2 separate regions of the Homo sapiens genome follow, and region 2 is linked to region 1. A link means that fine-mapping ties the variant in region 1 to the expression of a gene that starts in the linked region. Tissue or cell type: whole blood. Region 1 holds a variant in brackets; the other region holds the start of a gene. All regions are shown on one strand. Distances are between the middles of the regions.

The links. PIP is the estimated chance that this variant, and not a neighbour inherited with it, causes the effect.
Region 2: it holds the start of ING5, and the variant in region 1 is fine-mapped to the expression of ING5 in whole blood (TOPMed, PIP above 0.99).

Annotation. Positions count from the first base shown.
Region 1 is chr2:241,724,706-241,733,799 of GRCh38, reverse strand. It overlaps ING5 (inhibitor of growth family member 5), which reads right to left. Exons shown (of 8, transcript NM_032329.6): 8 at 4,322-8,811. The coding sequence ends at 8,769. Among named protein-coding and RNA genes, the nearest start is that of D2HGDH, 5.4 kb to the left of the region's middle. The variant G/A (reference allele first, on the strand shown) is at 5,127.
Region 2 is chr2:241,698,888-241,708,218 of GRCh38, reverse strand. ING5 (inhibitor of growth family member 5) reads right to left here and starts at 6,180. Exons shown (of 8, transcript NM_032329.6): 1 at 6,117-6,180; 2 at 3,495-3,566. The coding sequence starts at 6,153. RefSeq lists enhancers at 5,062-5,691, 5,930-6,762 and silencers at 5,417-5,976, 6,161-6,324, 6,067-6,886.

The DNA.
Region 1 (9,094 bases):
GCCCAGGCTGGTCTCGAACTCCTGGACTCAAGCGATCCGCCCGCGTCGGCCTCCCAAAGCACTTGTTACTTCAGCTCACCCAATTCCATAGAACCCTAGCGGGTGCAGAGGATGCCAATCTCTGAGCAGATGAGGGCAGAGAGCAGGAGACCACACTTGGCCCGAGGCAGGACTGCGGAGCTGTGCAAGAGGTGGAGGCTACGCCCGTGACAGCAGATGGGTCCTGGTAGTCACACAGAAAACCGGCGAGCTGGATTTGTCCTGGTGATGAGGCTCTGGAGCAGCAGTTGCAAGGAGTCATTCCTGTCCTCCTTAACCACATCCCCAGAGGCCACTCACCTTCTTCCCAGGTGAATCATTCATACAACCCTGGAAAGGAGACATCCACCTGGCCCTTCCTACCTGGCTGGCCCTTGCTCTGCAGATGAGTGTGGGAGTTTGCCCATTGTCAAGGGTAACTGTTGCAATTACACATTCAGGAACTGGAAAGACGACCACAGATGAGGTCTGTGGACCCCCTTACCACCTGACCTCCACACGCCCTCCCTTTGACTAGCAGGCCAGTGGCATCTTGGACCCCTGGGATTAGGAATGATTCAAAACCCATAAAGATTACCACCCATACCATCCCCTAAAATAACTGATTTTTCTGACCAGGCACGGTGGCTCACGCCCATAATACCAGCACTTTGGGAGGCTGAGGCAGGTGGATCACCTGAGGTCAGGAGTTCGATACCAACTGTGGGCGGCAAGCCACCCAGGTGCCGAGGCAAGAGACCGAAGACACGAGCTGTTCCAGTATAATAAAATAAGAATAGTTATACCAGATATAGATCTTAGATATGATTATATATGAATATCATTAATCATTAGTTGGTAGCAATTACTCTTTATTCCAATATTATAATAATCCTCGCTCTACAATCATAACCTAGGAAAAACCAGGCCATACAGAGATAGGAGCTGAGGGGACATAGTGAGGAGTGACCAGAAGAGTGCGAGCCTTCTGTTATGCCCAGACAGGGCCACCAGAGGGCTCCTTGGTCTAGCGGTGACGCCAGCGTCTGGGAAGACACCCGTTACCTAGCGGACCGTGGTCTAGCGGTAGCGAAAAGTGTCAAGAAACACCACCCGCTACTTAGCAGACCGGAAAAGGGAGTCTCCCTTTCCCCGGGGGAGTTTAGAGACGACTGTACTCCTCCACCTCTTGTGGAGGACCTGACATCAGTCAGGCTCGCCCGCAGTTATCCGGAGGCCTAACCGTCTCCCCGTGATGCTGTGCTTCAGTGGTCACGCTCCTAGTCCGCCTTCATGTTCCATCCTGTACACCTGGCTCTGCCTTCTAGATAGCAGTAGCAAAATTAGTGAAAGTACTAAAAGTCTCTAATAAGCAGAAATAATGGCGTAAGCTGTCTCTCTGTCTCCTCTCTCTCTCTGCCTCGGCTGCCAGGCAGGGAAGGGCCCCTGTCCAGTGGACACGTGACCCACATGACCTTACCTATCATTGGAGATGGCTCACTCTCCTTATCCTGACCCTTTGTCTTGTATCCAATAAATATCAGTGCAGCCTGGCATTCGGGGCCACTACCGGTCTCCGCAACTTAATGGTAGTGGTCCCCCAGGCCCAGCTGCCTTTTCTTTTATCTCTGTCTTGTGTCTTTATTTCTGTACTCTCTCGTCTCCGCACATGGGGAGAGACCCACCGACCCTGTGGGGCTGGTCCCTACACCAACCTGGCCAACATGGTGAAACCCTGTCTCTACCAACAATACAAAAATTAGCTGGGCATGGTGGTCGGTGCCTATAATCCCAGCTACTTGGGAGACTGAGGCAAGAGAATGGCTTGAACCTGGGAGGCAGAGGTTGCAGTAAGCTGAGATCACGCCACTGCACTCCAGCCTGGCGACAGAGTGAGATTCTGTCTCAAAAAAAAAAAAAAAAAACTGTCTCAGAAAATAATAACAACTGATTTTTCTTTTTCCCAGGGCATAGTCACCCTAGCAAAGCCCACATGTACCCTCAGAGAATGCTTGGAGGAAAATACGGCATGTGCTGGTTTCAGCGTTGTGGGGCCCTCACCCAGCATCTCAGCCTCCTCTTCCAGCGAGATGGCAGGTGCTGGTTTCCGCATTGTGAGGCCTTCCCCCAGCATCTCAGCCTCCTCTTCCAGCGAGATGGCAGGTGCTGGTTTCGGCGTTGTGGGGCCTTCCCCCAGCATCTCAGCCTCCTCTTCCAGCGAGGACTCCAGTCTACGGATTGGTTTTCACCTGGACGGTGGGTGAGAGGCCGACTGTACCTCGTGATGACCAAGCTCTTCCCGGGTTCTGTTAATGCACTCCTCAAGGCAACATCTTGAGACCCATCAGCTCCTGTTATGTTTGTGTCCCCCAGAATTCGTATGCAGAAGCTGTAACCCCCAATATGGCCGTATTTGGAGATGGAACTTCTGAAGAAGTAATTAAGGTTAAAGTCAGTCACAAGGGTGGGGTCCTGATCCGACAGGACAGGCATCCGTAAAATAAGAGACACCAGAGAGCTCCCTCTCCCAGTCAGTTTCGTAGGCACACATGAGAAGGCAGTGTTCACAACCCAAGGGAAGAGCCCTGGACAGGCACCAGACAACCCCAGCGCCTTAATCTTGGACTTCCAATCTCCAGAAATATAAGACATTTTTCTTAAGCCTCCCAGTCTGTGGTATTGTGATAACAGCCTGATATGGTTTGGATTTGTGTCCCCGCCCATAATCCCCAATGTTGGGGGAGGGGCCTGGTAGGAGGTGACTGGCTCATGGGCGCAGATTTCCCCTTGCTGTTCTTGTGGAGGTAAGTGAACTCTCAGGAGACCTGCTTGTTTAAAAGTGTGGCACCTTTCCCCTTTGCTCCCTTTCTCTCCTGGTCTGCCGTGGTAAAACGTGCTTGCTTCCCCTCCGCCTTCTGCCATGATGTAAGTTTCCTGAGGCCTCCGCACCACGCTTCCTGTACAGCCTGCAGAACTGTGAGTCAATTAAACCTCATTTCTTTATAAATTACACAGTCTCAGGTCGTTCTTTATAGCAATACAAGAATGGACTAATACAGAGCCTAAGCTGACTCCAGCAGCTTCCAAAAGGCAAGTGCAACACGGTAAGTCTTGCCCTTCCAGAGCAAGCACAGTACTCCTTTAGAAAGCAACTGCAGCGGCCGGGCGTGGTGGCTCACGCCTGTAATCCCAGCACTTTGGGAGGCCGAGGCAGGCGGATCACGAGGTCAGGAGATCGAGACCATCCTGGCTAACACGGTGAAACCCTGTCACTACTAAAAATACAAACAATTAGCCGGGCATGGTGGTGGGCGCCTGTAGTCCCAGCTACTCGGGACACAGGCAGGAGAATGGCGTGAACCTGGGAGGCGGAGCTTGCAGTGAGCAGAGATTGCACCACTGCACTCCAGCCTGGGCAACAGAGTGAGACTCCGTCTCAAACAAAAAAAAAAGAAAGCAACTGCAGCATTCTCACACGTCTTCCTTGGAAGTCAACTTGAGCCCCAGCACTGGCCACTGAGCTTCCTGAGCAACCACCCAAGGTAAGGCACAGGGTCCTCCCCAGACCCCCAGCCAGCAAGCTCCGCAAACCACTCTCCAATCACTGCATACCCCTTCAGAATTCAATTTCACACACCTGTCTCTGGGCACAACACTGACATTTTACACCTGTTTCCCAAAATGATGCTGAGTCTTGGGGGTGGTTCCCCCATACTTTTCTCGTGGTAGTGAATAAGTCTCACGAGATCTGATGGTTTTTTTAAGGGGAAACCCCTTTCACTTGGCTCTCATTTTCTATTGTCTGCTGCCATGTAAGATAAGCCTTTCGTCTCCCGCCATGATTGTGAGGCCTCCCCAGCCATGTGGAACTGAGGGTCCACCAGACCTCTTTTTCTGTCAGGTGCGGTGGCTCACGCCTGTAATCCCAACACTTTGGGAGGCTGAGGCAGGCAGATCACCTGAGGTCAGGAGTTCAAGACCAGCTTGGCCAACATGGCAAAACCCCATCTCTACTAAAAATACAAAAATTAGCAGGGCGTGGTGGCACGTGCCTGTAGTCCCAGCTACTCAGGAGGCTGAGGCAGGAGAATCACCTGAACCCGGGAGGCAGATGTTACAGTGAGCCGAAATCATGCAGTGCCATTGCACTCCAGCCTGGGTGACAGAGCAAGACTCCGTCTCAAAAAAAGAGAAAAGAAAATTTTTTTTAAAAAAAACCTCTTTTTCTTTACAAATTACCCAATCTCGGGTATGTCTTTATCAGCAGCGTGAAAACGGGCTAATACAGATGCACTTTCAATTGTTTGTTCCAAAAAATACTTTATTTATTAAACAATATATCCATAATCTATAACATGATCCAAAAATACTGATATACATCTTTACATTATCTAATAAAAAGATTTACAACATTATCTTTCCTTTACAAAGGGAACATAGATAATAATTCCTTGAAAATAAAAATGTAACATTCATGTTAAAGCTGCATCATCGTTTTGGATGAAACGTGGTTAAAGGTGGACACCACAAAATACATACAGAGGAAGAAAGAAACTCCAACACAATCTCTCCTGAATGGGAACATTTTCTTACACTTCCCCTGGCTTAAAATTCCTCTCAGCACAAGTATTGAAGGCCAATCACTGCTCACTAAAAATTTAAGAAAACCTTAAGTCTTCAATGCCCATAATTAACATCCCTCACGGTTTTACTCTAAACCATGAAGACCTAACCTAGGACAGGGCAGACCCTCGGCTCTGGGGTCATGTGGGAAGCTGCTCTGGGCCAGCGTCATTGCTCAAAGCAGCCCCAGCCAGGGCTCCCAACGACAGGACAGGAGGCCAAGTCCGGCAGGGCTGCTGGACACCAGACAAGCTGGCCGGTGTCCCCATCAGTCCCAGCAAACCCTCCCACCGCCACCAGTCTGCACAGCTGCTTCTCGCTGCTCCAGGCAGACTGGAAAACACCCACGCCACAAAGCCCTGGCCAACAGTGAGACGGGCGGTCAGCTGCTGCTCAGGCAGCCACGTAGGCCTCCGCACGGCGTCCCTGGCCAACAGTGGTCTCATGTCCACCCGCCCAGGGGTCCCGTCCAGCATGAGACGGGC[G/A]GTCAGCTGCTGCTCAGGAGGCCACGCAGGCCTCCGCTTGGCATCCATGTCCCCAGCAGCAGCACCTAGGGCACATTCGCAGATGCAGAGGGCTCGGTTTCACCAGCTCCTGTTTTCACTGCAGCCTGCCTTCCCCTACAGGATTTCCTCAGATCACTGACTGATACCGCAGCACTGAAAACAAGGAAAATGGGTAGAACGCTCCTTCCCATCGAGGTCAATCGCACAGCCACAGAGGACCCACACCTTCGGCTCAGATGAAGCTGCCACAGTGACCCACTGGTTCCAGCCCACACACCCTCAATCCAAGAGATGGGTCTGGGGCCGGGCAGCTGTGGAGGGGGGTCTGGTCCGAGACCAAATCCTTGAATCACCCCCAGGGAGAAGGCGGCCAGGCCTTCTGGAGCAAGGCGTGGATGGTGCAAATGGTGTGGCTTCTGTGTCCCTGCAGGGCGGGGGCCAGGCCAGGGGCCATGACCTTCTTTTCTGGCCAAACGGCCACTCCTGAGTGTGTCTCTCCCACGGGTAGACAGCGTCAGCCACAGAGCACTCAGGATTCAGTTGGGTCCAAACTACAGCCCAAGGAATTGTCTCATTCTGCTCATGTTTTCTATGTTTCTTCCAAAACTCTATGCATATTATTTTGGTGATATTATTGTAAGTGGCAAAAGTAAACATTAAAAACACTAAGCACAGAAACTTGAAAAGAAAAGGTCAAAATTCAATACCTGGGATGGTGCACAGTGGCAGGCAGGACCACATCATCACGTGTCAGACAAAAGCGTCCCACAGGGAAGCCAGTCATCTTTCCCCAAAAAGCAGCGAGACCTCAGGAAGCCGGGCAGCCAAAAGCATCAACAACCCCAGCGCTTTCCAGGGGTAGCCACAGGTGTGAACAGCTCAAAGGTGGAGCGCAATATCAAATTCATTTCTGAAAAATTGCCAGGCGCTGTTTCAGCACAAACTCCCTGCACTTACCTATCCCTCTTCCCAAAAATGGTAAAAGAGAGAAAAACATTTTCCACAATGTATCCTCCACGATCAATAAACATCTGTGTTGGCCGGGTGCGGTGGCTCATGCCTGTCATCCCAGCACTTTGGGAGGTCGAGGCGGGTGGATCACTTCAGGTCAGGAGTTCGAGACCAGCCTGGCCACACATGGTGAAACCCCATTTCTACTAAAAATACAAAAATTAGCTGGGCGTGGTGGTGGACGCCTATAATCCCAGCTGCTCGGGAGGCTAAGGCAAGAGAATCACTTGAACCCAGGAAGCAGAGGTTGCAGTGAGCCAAGATGGTGCCATTGCATTCCAGCCTGGGTGACAGAGCAAAACTCCGTTTCAAAAACACAAAACAAAAAACAAAACACACACACACACACACACACAAAACCTGTGCTAACAAAAAGTTAAGTCATTAAATGAAAATTCATCTCCCAGCTGAGCGCAGTGGCTGACACCTGTAATCCCAGCACTCTGGGAAGCCGACGCAGGCGGATCATTTGACCCCAGGAGTTTGAGACCAGTCTGGCCAATATGGTGAAACCCCGTCTCCAACAAAAATACAAACTTAGCTGGGTGGCCAGGCGCGGTGGCTCACGCCTGTAATCCCAGCACTCTGGGAAGCCGAGGCGGGCAAATCGTGAGGTCAGGAGATCGAGACCATCCTGGTTAACATGGTGAAACCCTGTCTCTACTAAAAATATAAAAAATTAGCCAGGCGTGGTGGCGGGCGCCTGTAGTCCCAGCTACTCGGGGGGGCTGAGGCAGGAGAATGGCGTGAACCCGGGAGGCGGAGCTTGCAGTGAGCCGAGATCACGCCACTGCTCTCCAGCCTGGGTGACAGAGCAAGACTCCGTCTCAAAAAAAAAAATTAACATACAAAACCCACCCATCTCCAGTTTCACAGCCGTGGCGAAGGGTGTGAAGCACTGTAGCCTGCCCTCTCTGGCGCTTTCCCTTCTAAGCCGCAGGAAGGCACCGCTTGGAGGGAGCCCCTTCAGGCCCAGACACTGGCAGGGACGAGCAGCAGCAGTGGCCGACCGCCCGCCTGCACCTGCCTGGCACCTGCGCCCGGAGGATCCACTCCCACCCACACCCTCGGAAAAGGACAGGTGGCCCAGAGGCATCCGTGTGTTCAAGAACCGCAGAACATGAATGTGGACACCATCCCAACCAGGACTGTTCAGGGTGTTCTTGTTCTCTTGTTCTCACTCACTGACTACCAGCTTCTCGACGGGAGGGCCCCGTCTGAGACACAGAGCTTCACACGTTCCTTCTGCTTTATTTCCTCTCCCTAGTGAAACATTAAACACAGGAGGAAAAGATACAGATGTAGCCATCAGAAGGAAGTGAGGCTGTCATTCCAAATGGCCCCCCACCATGAAGAAACCCAGGCTTCTTAAATCAGGAACCTCACGTCTCAGTTTTCCCTCAGGTTTCTTTCTGTGGTGTGAGGACAGAAACAGGCGTCCCTGCATTCCTCAGCAATCCTCTCCTTCCTCTAAAGGCACGGGAGAGGATTTCCGAGCGCCTGCGATGCTGTGGGGAACCGCAGGCTGGGCACCGTCACCAACGCGTCACAACAGAGCAAATCTGCATAGCCTTCCCCAACTACCACCGAAAGGATGGCTCCGGCTCAGCTTGGTGAACGCTCATTAAACAAAAAGCACACTCGAGTTTCCTAGCTTCATTCCAGAACTGCTATTGTGGCACAACAAATTCACAACAAATTCACATCGGAGTCCCCTCGACCGGGAGCTGCGGGCCTGGGAATGCACAGCACAGGCAGAAGCATTCGTGGTTCGTCAGCTCCTGGCAGACGGGACTCACTTCACGGACACACAGACCCACGATCTTCATGCTATTAGGGTAATTTCATCTTCACAGTAAAAAATCACCAATTCCCAGAGAAACGGAGCATCAGCCCAGCTGTCGCACAGGGTCTCGCGGGTGCTGGTCACGGGACCTGCGGCCACTCCAAGCTAATGAAGAGCCGTTTACTCCGGAGGTGAGTCCCCGAGGGAGGACTGAAGTCCAAGCTAAAAAGGCGGCGCCAGCGAAGCGGAGGCCGCTTCCTCCAGGGAAGAGCCCCCAGCCCTCCCGGGCCCATCCGAGGCGCCCCACGCGGGAGCGCACGGTGGCCGGAGGCGGCGCGGAGCCGAGTGTGAGGAGGGCAGCCGCCGCCACGGCAGTGGCCCCACGCGCGCCTCGGTGGCAGGTGCTCCAGCGGGCGGGGCACGCGGAGCCCGGGCTGTACCGGACAGTCCTGGAAAACCACAGGAAAGCTACGCGAGGGTGGCGGCCGCCCTCCGTGGACCAGGTTACCATGTCCCCGCCCGCACGCCCGGCCGGGCAGCCCGAGCTCACGCGCGCCCGCCCACGTCCGCCGGGGTCCCTGCTGATGCTCGGGGGGAGTCCTGTAAAAGCCACACTGAGGTCGCGGCGGCGAGTCCCTGCAAGGTCGCCCTTCTGTGCGAACAGGCTTTGGTGGTTCTTGTTCTAGGAAACATCCAGCGCTTCAACTGGCCACGGAGTTACTAAGTATCAACCGAACAAGGTAGTTTTAAAAGGAAGGGAAATATTGCGACACGAATGAAGGGACAGATTAACTTGCTCCTCGGATCCGGGCACACAGCTCCTCCTACTTCTTCTTCCTCTTTTCCTGGACACACCGTGGACAGAACCTGTGACAAGAAAGGCGCAGTGAGGCCCTGGGCGCCATTTCCGCCAGCGCGCAGGGTGCCCAGGGCCCGCCTCCCCATGTCTCCCAGGGCTGCTGGACGCCGGCAGGAGGGCACCAGGAGAGGCACACGCAGTGGGGCCGCGGCCCTCCCGCAGGGAAAATGCGCCGATGCACGTGCGGCTCTATGCAGGACGCCGGTTCTGAAGCTGACAGATACACCATCAATGAGCAAAACCGATTTGACACCCAGGCGTTCCTCCTTAACAGGTGGGTCCTTCTTCCCC
Region 2 (9,331 bases), 26 kb after region 1:
AAAAACAAAAGAAAACTGTTGAAGGCCATGCACGGCGGCTCACGCCTGTGATCCCAGCACTTTGGGAGGCCAAGGCAGGAGGATCACGAGGTTAAGAGATGGAAACCATCCTGGCCAATGTGGTGAAACCCCGTCTCTTCTAAAAATACAACAATTAGCTGGGCATGGTGTTACGTGCCTATGGTCCCAGCTACTCAGGAGGCTGAGGCAGGAGAATCACTTGCACCCAGGAGGCAGAGGTTGCAGTGAGCCGAGACCGTGCCACTGCACTCCAGCCTGATGGTAAAGCGAGACTCCGTCTCAGAAAAAAAAAAGAAAACTACTGTTAAAGGTGGAAGGTGACTGTCACCAAACTCAGGATGGTCACCCCTTGGTTGGGGAGGGGTGTCATGACTAGGAGGGTCACAAAGGCCTTCAGGTGCCAAAGGGCTTGATTTCTCCATCTCGGTAGCAGACAACAGAGAGGTTCACCTGGTAATATTTGTTAAGCAATCTATAATTGTTGCACATTCATTTCCTGAATATATGTTACATTTCACAATAAAATAACTCTCTGTATTCCCTAGTCAAGATGCTGTACCTAAGGAAAAAAACACAGCTATCTCAGTCTTGCAAAACATGTGCCCAGGCCGGGTGTGGTACTCACGTCTGTAATCCCAGCACTTTGGGAGGCCAAGGCGGGTGGATGAACCTGAGGTCAGGAGTTCAAGACCAGCCTGACCAACATGGAGAAACCCCGTCTCTACTTAAAATACAAAAAATTAGCAGGGTGTGGTGGCGCATGCCTGTAATCCCAGCTACTCGGGAGGCTGAGGCAGGAGAATTGCTTGAACCCGGGAGGCGGAGGTTGCGGTGAGCTGAGATCGTGCCATTGCACTCCAGCCTGGACAACAAGAGCGAAACTCCATCTCAAAACAAAAAAAACAAACCTGTGCCCAGCATAATGAATAAAAAATCTCAGGCCAGGCACAGTGGCTCACACCTGTAATACCAGCACTTTGGGAGGCCAAGGCGGGCAGATCACCTGAGGTTGAGAGTTTGAGACCAACCTGATCAACATGGAGAAACCCCATCTCTATTAAAAATACAAAATTAGCTGGGCATGATGGTGCATGCCTGTAATCCCAGCTACTCGGGAGGCTGAGGCAGGAGAATCACTTGAACCTGGGAGGCAGAGGTTGTGTTGAGCCAAGATCGCGCCATCGCACGCCAGCCTGGGCAACAAGAGTGAAACTCCATCTCAAAAAAAAAAAAAAAAAAAATTGCCACACCAAAACACATTATCATGAAATTTAAAACTTCAGAGATAAAGGAAACATCTCAAAAGCTTCTGAATAGGAATAACAAAAAAAAAATAGATCACACATATAAAGGACCAAGAATCCAAACGGCACCAGATTTTCTGCAGCAACGTGGAAGCTAGGAGACAAGGCAGCAATGTCGCCAACTTCCTGAGTGAAAACAATTGTCAACCTAGGATTCTATACCCAACCAAACTATCAGCTGAGTATGAGGCTAGAACAAACACATTTTCAGACATGCAATGTTACAAGAAAATCTACCTTCCTTTTTTTCTTTTTTTTTTTTTTTTTTGAGATGGAGTTTCGCTCTTGTTGCCCAGGGTGGAGTGCAATGGTGCGATCTCCAGGTGCAACCTCCGCCTCCAGGTTCAAGTGATTCTCCTGCCTCAGCCTCCCAATTAGCTGGGATTATAGGCGTGCGCCACCACACCCGGCTAATTTTGTATTTTTAGTAGAGACGGGGTTTCTCCATGTCGATCAGGCTGGTCTCGAACTCCTGACCTCAGGTGATCTGCCCACCTCAGCCTCCCAAAGTGCTGGGATTACAGGCATGAGCCACCGTGCCTGGCCAAGAAAATCTACCTTCCTATGTGCCTTTTTTTCAGGAACCTACCAAAGGAAAGGCTCTATCAAAACAGGAGAGCAAGGGCAAAAAGAAGACATTTAAGATTCAGGGAAGAGGGTCCCACACTGAAGAGGGGTGAAAGGAGATCCCAGGAAAACCTCAGGGCAACAAGTGTGCAGTTGGCATGGAAACAATCAGGACTGTGGCCTCCAGGACAGAGGGCTCTGCGGAAAGAAAGCACACACAGAACTGTCAGGGTAGACAGCCTGACAGACCACAAGGAAAAGCCCAGCTGGGGAGACAAGGGTCGAATGCAGAAAACAAAGCCAACAAACAGGGCCATGAGTAACTCTAAGAAATACACAAAGTTATTCCAAAGAGGTCATATAAGCACAGCAGGTGGCATGGCTCAGTGTTAAAGTACCTACACAGCTGCCCAATGGAAGTCCCATCACTGGTCTCACCACAAATTCTAACAACCTACAGCCAGGAGATGGGGGAGCCAGGTGAGGGCATGTGAGGGTGTGGGGGCCACTGGAGAAGTACAGCTGCCTGTGCCATATACGTCTGAACAACGTCTAAAACTGACGAGAGATAAAATAAGAAACAGCAACAAAAACATGTTGTTTAGAAACAGGGAGTTTAAGGGCCGGGCGCGGTGGCTCATGCCTGTAATCCCAGCACTTTGGGAGGCCTAGGCAGGCGGATCATGAGGTCAGTAGATCAAGACCATCCTGGCTAACATGGTGAACATGGTGAAACCCTGTCTCTACTAAAAATACAAAAAATTAGCTGGGTGTGGTGGCATGTGACTGTAGTCCCAGCTACTCGGGAGGCTGAGGCAGGAGAATCACTTGAACCCGGGAGGTGGAGGTTGCAGTGAGCCAAGATCGTGCCACTGCACTCTAGCCTGGGCAACAGAGTGAGACTCTGTCTCAAAAAAAAAAAAAAAAAAAAAGAAAAAAACAGAGTTAGGGCCAGGCGAGGTGGCTCACGCTTGTAATCCCAGCACTTTGGGAGGCTGAGGCGGGCAGATCATGAGGTGAGGAGATCAAGACCATCCTGGCTAACACGGTGAAACCCCGTCTCTACTAAAAATACAAAAAAAAAATTAGCCAGGCGTGGTGGCGGGCACCTGTAGTCCCAGCTACTCAGGAGGCTGAGGCAAGAGAATGGTGTGAACCCAGGAGGCAGAGCTTGCAGTGAGCTGAGATCACGTCACTGCACTCCGGACTGGGCGACAAAGCAAGACTCCGTCTCAAAAAAAAAGAAACGGAGTTAAATATCAAACGGCCAAAAAGTACTACCAAACTTTTAAAACAATGCACGCACTACACACTTTGAAAATTGAAAATATTTAAAAGAAAAAATTGGCAATAAATATTTTGATTGGAAAGGGTGATGGTTATAAAAACATGATATAAAGATGTGTAAGAACCCAAGAAACAATGTGGCTTCAAAAGTATCAACACCTACTGCAAGACACTGAGTGATACCCACGGCCCAGGGCTAGGCCAATGCCCCACTAACCTGGGTCCCCTCAAAACCCTCTGCCCCCAGCCTTCAGGAGCTGCTGGCTCCCACCTGTCAGAACTCAGTTCTGGTTGTATGGAGAGGTCTGAACCCACCTTCCGTCCTCTGGTCCAGCTCTCGCATCAGCTGGAAGTTCCTCTGAAGTTCGCAGGGAAGGTTCTCGATACCTGAAACGCAAAAACACAGAAGCCATGTACCTCTCAGCAGCAAGACAAAAATTCACCTCCAAAGGTTTTCTGTCTTTTTTTTTTGAGATGGAGTTTCACTCTTGTTGCCCAGGCTGGAGTGCAGTGGTGCGATCTTGGCTCACTGCAACCTACACCTCCCAGGTTCAAGTGATTCTCACGCCTCCGCCTCCTGAGTAGCTGGGATTACAGGCACATGCCACCATGCCCGGCTAGTTTTTGTATTTTTAGTTGAGACGGGGTTTCACAAGGTTGGCCAGGCTTGTCTCGAACTCCTGACCTCAGGTGATCCGCCCACCTCGGCCTCTCAAAGTGCTGGGATTACAGGTGTGAGCCACCAGGACTGGCCAAAAGTTTTATACTTCAAGTCTACAAGCCCACTCTGTATTCTGTCTCTGTCAGGGTTTGCGGAGCGGAAGGACTGTGATCTCATTTTTAGATGCAGGTACCAAACAGTGCTGACAAGAGGCTGTGTGCACACTTCGGAAGCTGTCAGAAGTCAAAGAAGGGAGAGGGAAACTTGGAAACCAACAGCACAGGCAGGGGAGGCCAACTGACCCCACCCTCTAGGCTGCCCCCCCTCAGTGAGCAGCATCTTCCAAGGCTCAAGCCAAAATCCCCTGGGTCCTCCTTGATCTTCCCCTACTTTACCCAGAAATCCAGTGCATTGAGCAGTGTAGCCACGCTGCCCACGCGACTTTATGCAAGGATAGAAATGTTTCCTCTCTCGGATGGGCGTGGTGGCTCATACCTGTAATCCCAGCACTTTGGGAGATCAAGACAGGCAAATCAGTTGAGGTCAGGAGTTCAAGACCAGCCTGGCCAACATGGTGAAACCCTGTCTCTACTAAAAATACAAAAATTATCCAGGCGTGGTGGTGCACAGCTACAGTCCCAGCTACTCGAGAGGCTAGGGCATGAGAATTGCTTGAACCTGGGAGGTGGAGGTTGCAGTGTGCTGAGATCATACCCTCCAACCTGGGCAACAGGGTGAGACTCCATTTCAAAAAAAATCAAAAAAAGAAAAAGAAAAGAAATGTTCTCTCTGAGCTGCCCAAGACAGTGGTGGCCATAGGGAGCTACTGAGCACTGGAAATGGGACTAACGCCATTCAATTTTTAATTTTACTTAAATAGTCCCTGTGGCTAGCGCAACCATTCCCCACAGTCTGCCAGGAGGACCCCCGTGCTGCTTTCGCGTCTGCTTTGTTACCCCCTAGACCAGGCCAACCTCCGCCCCCTGCACAGCTGACACAGGCTCCTAAGGGGGGCTGCCTCCTCCAGTCTTGGCCACCCTCCCATCTGCTGTTCACAGTTACCAGGCAATCATTTTAAACCTAACTCTATCTTATGCATCTGATGCTTCCAGCCCCAGTGTTTTCCCAGCTCCCCTAGAGGACAGAGGCACAGCCTCCCGGCTGGCACAGCCTCCCAGACACACACAAAGTCAACCCTCCTTGGGAGGCCAGCCCACTGGCTGGGCACCAGGATAGAGAAGGCCTCCCCTCCAGCGTGCTCCCCAGCTTGACTCTTCTACCCAGGGAACCCCCCACTACTCAGACCCCCAAGAGACAGCGGAGCACATGGGCAGAATCGGGCGTCCCTCTAGGGCAGCGGTCTCCAGCTCCAGGCCACGGCTCACTCGCCACTGTCTCAGCCCCTGGGCGGGTGCCAGGCCGAAGACCATGAGGATCCCCAGTGCAGCGCCCCCACAAGGGCCCTCCAGAGCCACCCGGCACAACCCCAAACACCGCGACCCCAAAGCTGTGCCCATCCCGGGCCGACGTCAGGGGTCCCGCGTGGGGTCTGCCCCTCTACGAGCGGGAGACCCTGAGCAGGCTGCTCGGCAGCGCTGGACCTTCCCTGGTGTGTAAAGTGAGGGAAAGCACCGTCCGCTCAGCCGCTGGGGGCGCCGACCTGCTGCCACCTGGAAACAGCACAGCCCGCCCACCAGGGCCGACTCGGCACCGCCCTCCCCGCCTCCGCGCCGCAGTCCCCAGTGCCGGGGAGAGACGCCCCGCGGCCCGCACGCCCTCCCCAGCCGCGGTCACACAAGAGGCCGGCGCACACGGGCGCACAGCCAGGCGGAGGCCCAGACCCCGGAGCCCCCAAGGCCCGGAGCCCCGCAGCGGGCGCCAGCTCCTCCTGCAGACGGGACAGGGACGGGCGGGACCTGGCGGGGCCGGGGCCGGAGCTGGGGGCGGAGATGAGGCGGGGCCTGGGTAGGGGCGGGACCTAATATGTGGGCGGGGTCGAGGCCGCAAGCCCCGCCCAGCATCGCCAGGCCCCGCCCCGCCGTGACGCACCTGGAATTGGCGCGACCCAGCCGGCGGGACCCCCCGCGCCCGCCCCCCGCGCCCTCCCCTCCCTTGCGGCCCTGCCCCGCCCCGTCCGCGCGCCCCCCGTCGCGCCCGGCCGCGCCCGCCGCCCTCCCGAGCCCACGGGGTCTGCATGCGGTGCCCGGCGCGCGGGGGGCTGCGGCACGGAGGACTCCGCGTGGGCGGCGGGCGCGGGGCCCGTGGGGCGCGCTTACTGTCCAGATAGTGCTCCAAGTACATGGCGGTCGCCATCTTCGTCCGCGGCCGCGCTCGGGGTCTGCGCGGGCGGGCGGTGCCGCGGGAGGCGGGGGCGGGGCGGTGCCAGCGCGCTCACTATTCATGAGTCGCGCGCGCTGATTGGTCGCGCCCGGGGGCGGGGTCGGACACGCCTTTCAGCTTCCGGCGGGCGGCGGGCTGCGGGGCCCGGGCGGAGGTTGTGGCAGCGGCGTCGGGCAGCGAGCAGGACCCAGGGCCGCAGCGGATCGGAGGCCGAGGAGGAGCAGGGGTTCCCGGCCCCACCGCCCGGCGTGCGGCCCAGGGCACCCAGGTGGGCGTCTCCCCTCCGCACCTGTCAGCGACCCCTGGGCCACCAAACGCAAACACGTGGTCCCGGGGACCTCACGCCCGTCCTGACGGCGCCCACGCGACCCCTGCTCCCGGCCGGGTCCCGGACAGGCCGCCACGAGGCCCTCCCTTCCCGAAGGCTCCTTGGGACCTGTCTGGCTCAGCGCCTTTCCCCCGGACCCCGAGCCCCCGGGGCCTCAGCCCGGCCTGAGCCGAGGGCCGGCACCGCGTGGCCCGGGCGAGCTGCCCCTCCCTCAGGGCCTGGGCCCTGGCGCCCTTCCCCCGCCAACGCCGCCCCTTCCCTCCGAGGAAAGCGGCCGCCCCGCCCAGCACCAGTGAGGGCACTGGCTCCTTTGCTGCCACCTCTCGAGGCAGGCAGGACCCGCACCATCTGGATGCCTTGGCCGAAAAGGCACGTGCGGCAGTATGATATAGTTAATAAGATGGCGTGCAAAGGTGTGCCGTAAGATGCATGCAAAAATACTGGAGAAGGCCGGCGCGCTGGCGCACGCCTGTAATCCCATCACTTTGGGAGGCCGAGGCGGGCGGATCACTTGAGGGCAGGAATTTGAGACCAGCCTGGCCAACGTGTTGAAACCCCGACTCTACTAAAAATACAAAAAAAAAAAAAAATTAGCCAAGCGTGGTGGCGCACGCCTGTAGTCCCAGCTACTCCGGAGGCTGAGCCCGGGAGGCGGAGGTTGTAGTGAGCTGAGATCGCGTCTGCACTCCAGCCTGGGCGACAGAGCAAGACTCTGTCTTCAAAAAAAAAAAAGAAAATTTTAAGAAAAAAAAAATACTGGAGAAACATAATTAAAATATGTTTCAGACTCGGCACGGTGGCTCACGCCTGTAATCCCAACACTTTGGGAGGCCGAGGCGGGCGGATCACTTGAGGGCAGGAATTTGAGACCAGCCTGGCCAACGTGGCGAAATCATGTCTCTACTAAAAATACAAAAATTACCCGGGCGTGGTGGCGGGCGCCTGTACTCCCAGCTACTCGGAGACTGAGGCAGGAAAATTACTTGAACTTGGGAGAGGGAGGTTGCAGTGAGAAGAGATCATGTAACTGCACTGCAGCTTGGGTGACAAGAGCAAGACTCCGTCTCAAAATAATAATAATACAAAAACTAGCCGGGCATGGTGGCAAGTACCTGTAATCCCAGATACTCGGGAGGCTGAAACAGGAGAATCGCTTGAGCTTGGGAGGCGGAGGTTGCAGTGAGCCGAGATTGCACCACTGCACTCCAGCCTGGCCAGCAGAGCAAGATTCCATCTCAAAAATAAAATAAAATAGGGCAGGCGCGGTGGCTCACTCCTGTAATTCCAGCACTTTGGGAGGCCAAGGCGGGAGGATCACGAGGTCAGGAGATTGAGACCATCCTGCCTAACACGGTGAAACCCCATCTCTACTAAAACTACAAAAAAATTAGCTGGGCATGGTGGCGGGCGCCTGTAATCCCAGCTACTCGGGCGGCCGAGGCAGGAGAATGGCGTGAACCCGGGAGGCTGAGCTTGCGGTGAGCCGAGATCGTGCCATTGCACTCCAGCCTGGGCGACAGAGCAACACTCCGTCCCAAAAAAAAAAAAAAAAAAAAAAAACTTAGCCGGGCATAATGGCTGGTGCCTGTAATCCCAGCTACCCAGGAGGCTGAGGAAGGAGAATCACTTGAACCTGGTACGTGGAGGTTGCAGTGAGCCGAGATCGTGCCACTGCACTCCAGCCTGGGTGACAGAGCGAGACTCCATCTTAAAATATAAAATAAAATAATTTAAAGTGTTTAAATATTAGTCTTTGGGGTGATTCTTCTCTGCCTCCAAACTGTGTAGCATCATCATGCAGTGCTCACCAGTACCCATGTCACTCCTCTTCCCACTTCACCACTGGACGCCCCCAAGCTGGGGATCAAACTCATCTCTGGCAGGTCTTTCATGGGTGAGGTGTGTCACTTCCCAGTCCTGTCTCCACTCCCTGTGATCTCAAGAGGACGTCCCAAAGGCTCCCCGAGCCCCAAGAACTGATGACCACTAGATGTAACGTGTAGGCCCCAGAACCCCCCGCCCCACCCCCAGCCACATCCTTGACTTCCGAGATGCAACGTTGCTGGTCACACAAATTAGCATAAGCTGATCAAAGGAGCAGTACTTTCATTATTTAAAATGCATTTTTAAAGATATTAAGCCAGCTGCTGTGACTCAAATCCGTATGATCACCATGAGAGGCTGAGGCGGGAGGATGGCTTGAGCCCAGGAGGTCTAGGCTGCAGTGAGCCATGATCAAACCACTGTACTCTTGCCTGGGTGACGGAGACCCCCACCTAAAAAAACAAGCTATGTCCCCCTTGGTGGACTCTTCCCTAAACCCCAGTCAAATATTGAAAACCAGAAACAATGTTTTTGCCACTATTATGTTCATTATAAAAATTCAGGCCAGGCATGGTGGCTCACGCCTGTAATCCCAGCACTTTGGAAGGATGAGGTGGGTGGATCACCTGAGGTCAGGAGTTTGAGACCAGCCTGACCAACATGGAGAAACCCAGTCTCTACTAAAAATACAAAATTAGCCAGGCGTGGTGGGCATGGGCCTGCAATCTCAGCTGCTCGGGAGCCTGAGGCAGGAGAATCATTTGAACCTAGGAGGCAGAGGATGCAGTCAGCTGAGGTCATGCCATTGCACTCCAGCCTGGGCTACAAGAGCAAACCCCTCCCCCCCCAAAAAAAAATTCAGCTGGGGTGGTGGCTCACGCCTGTAATCCCAGCACTTTGGGAGGCCAAGGTGGGTGGATCACCTGAGGTCGGGAGTTCGAGACCAGCCTGACCAATACAGAGAAACCCCATCTCTATTAAAAATACAAAAGTAGCTGG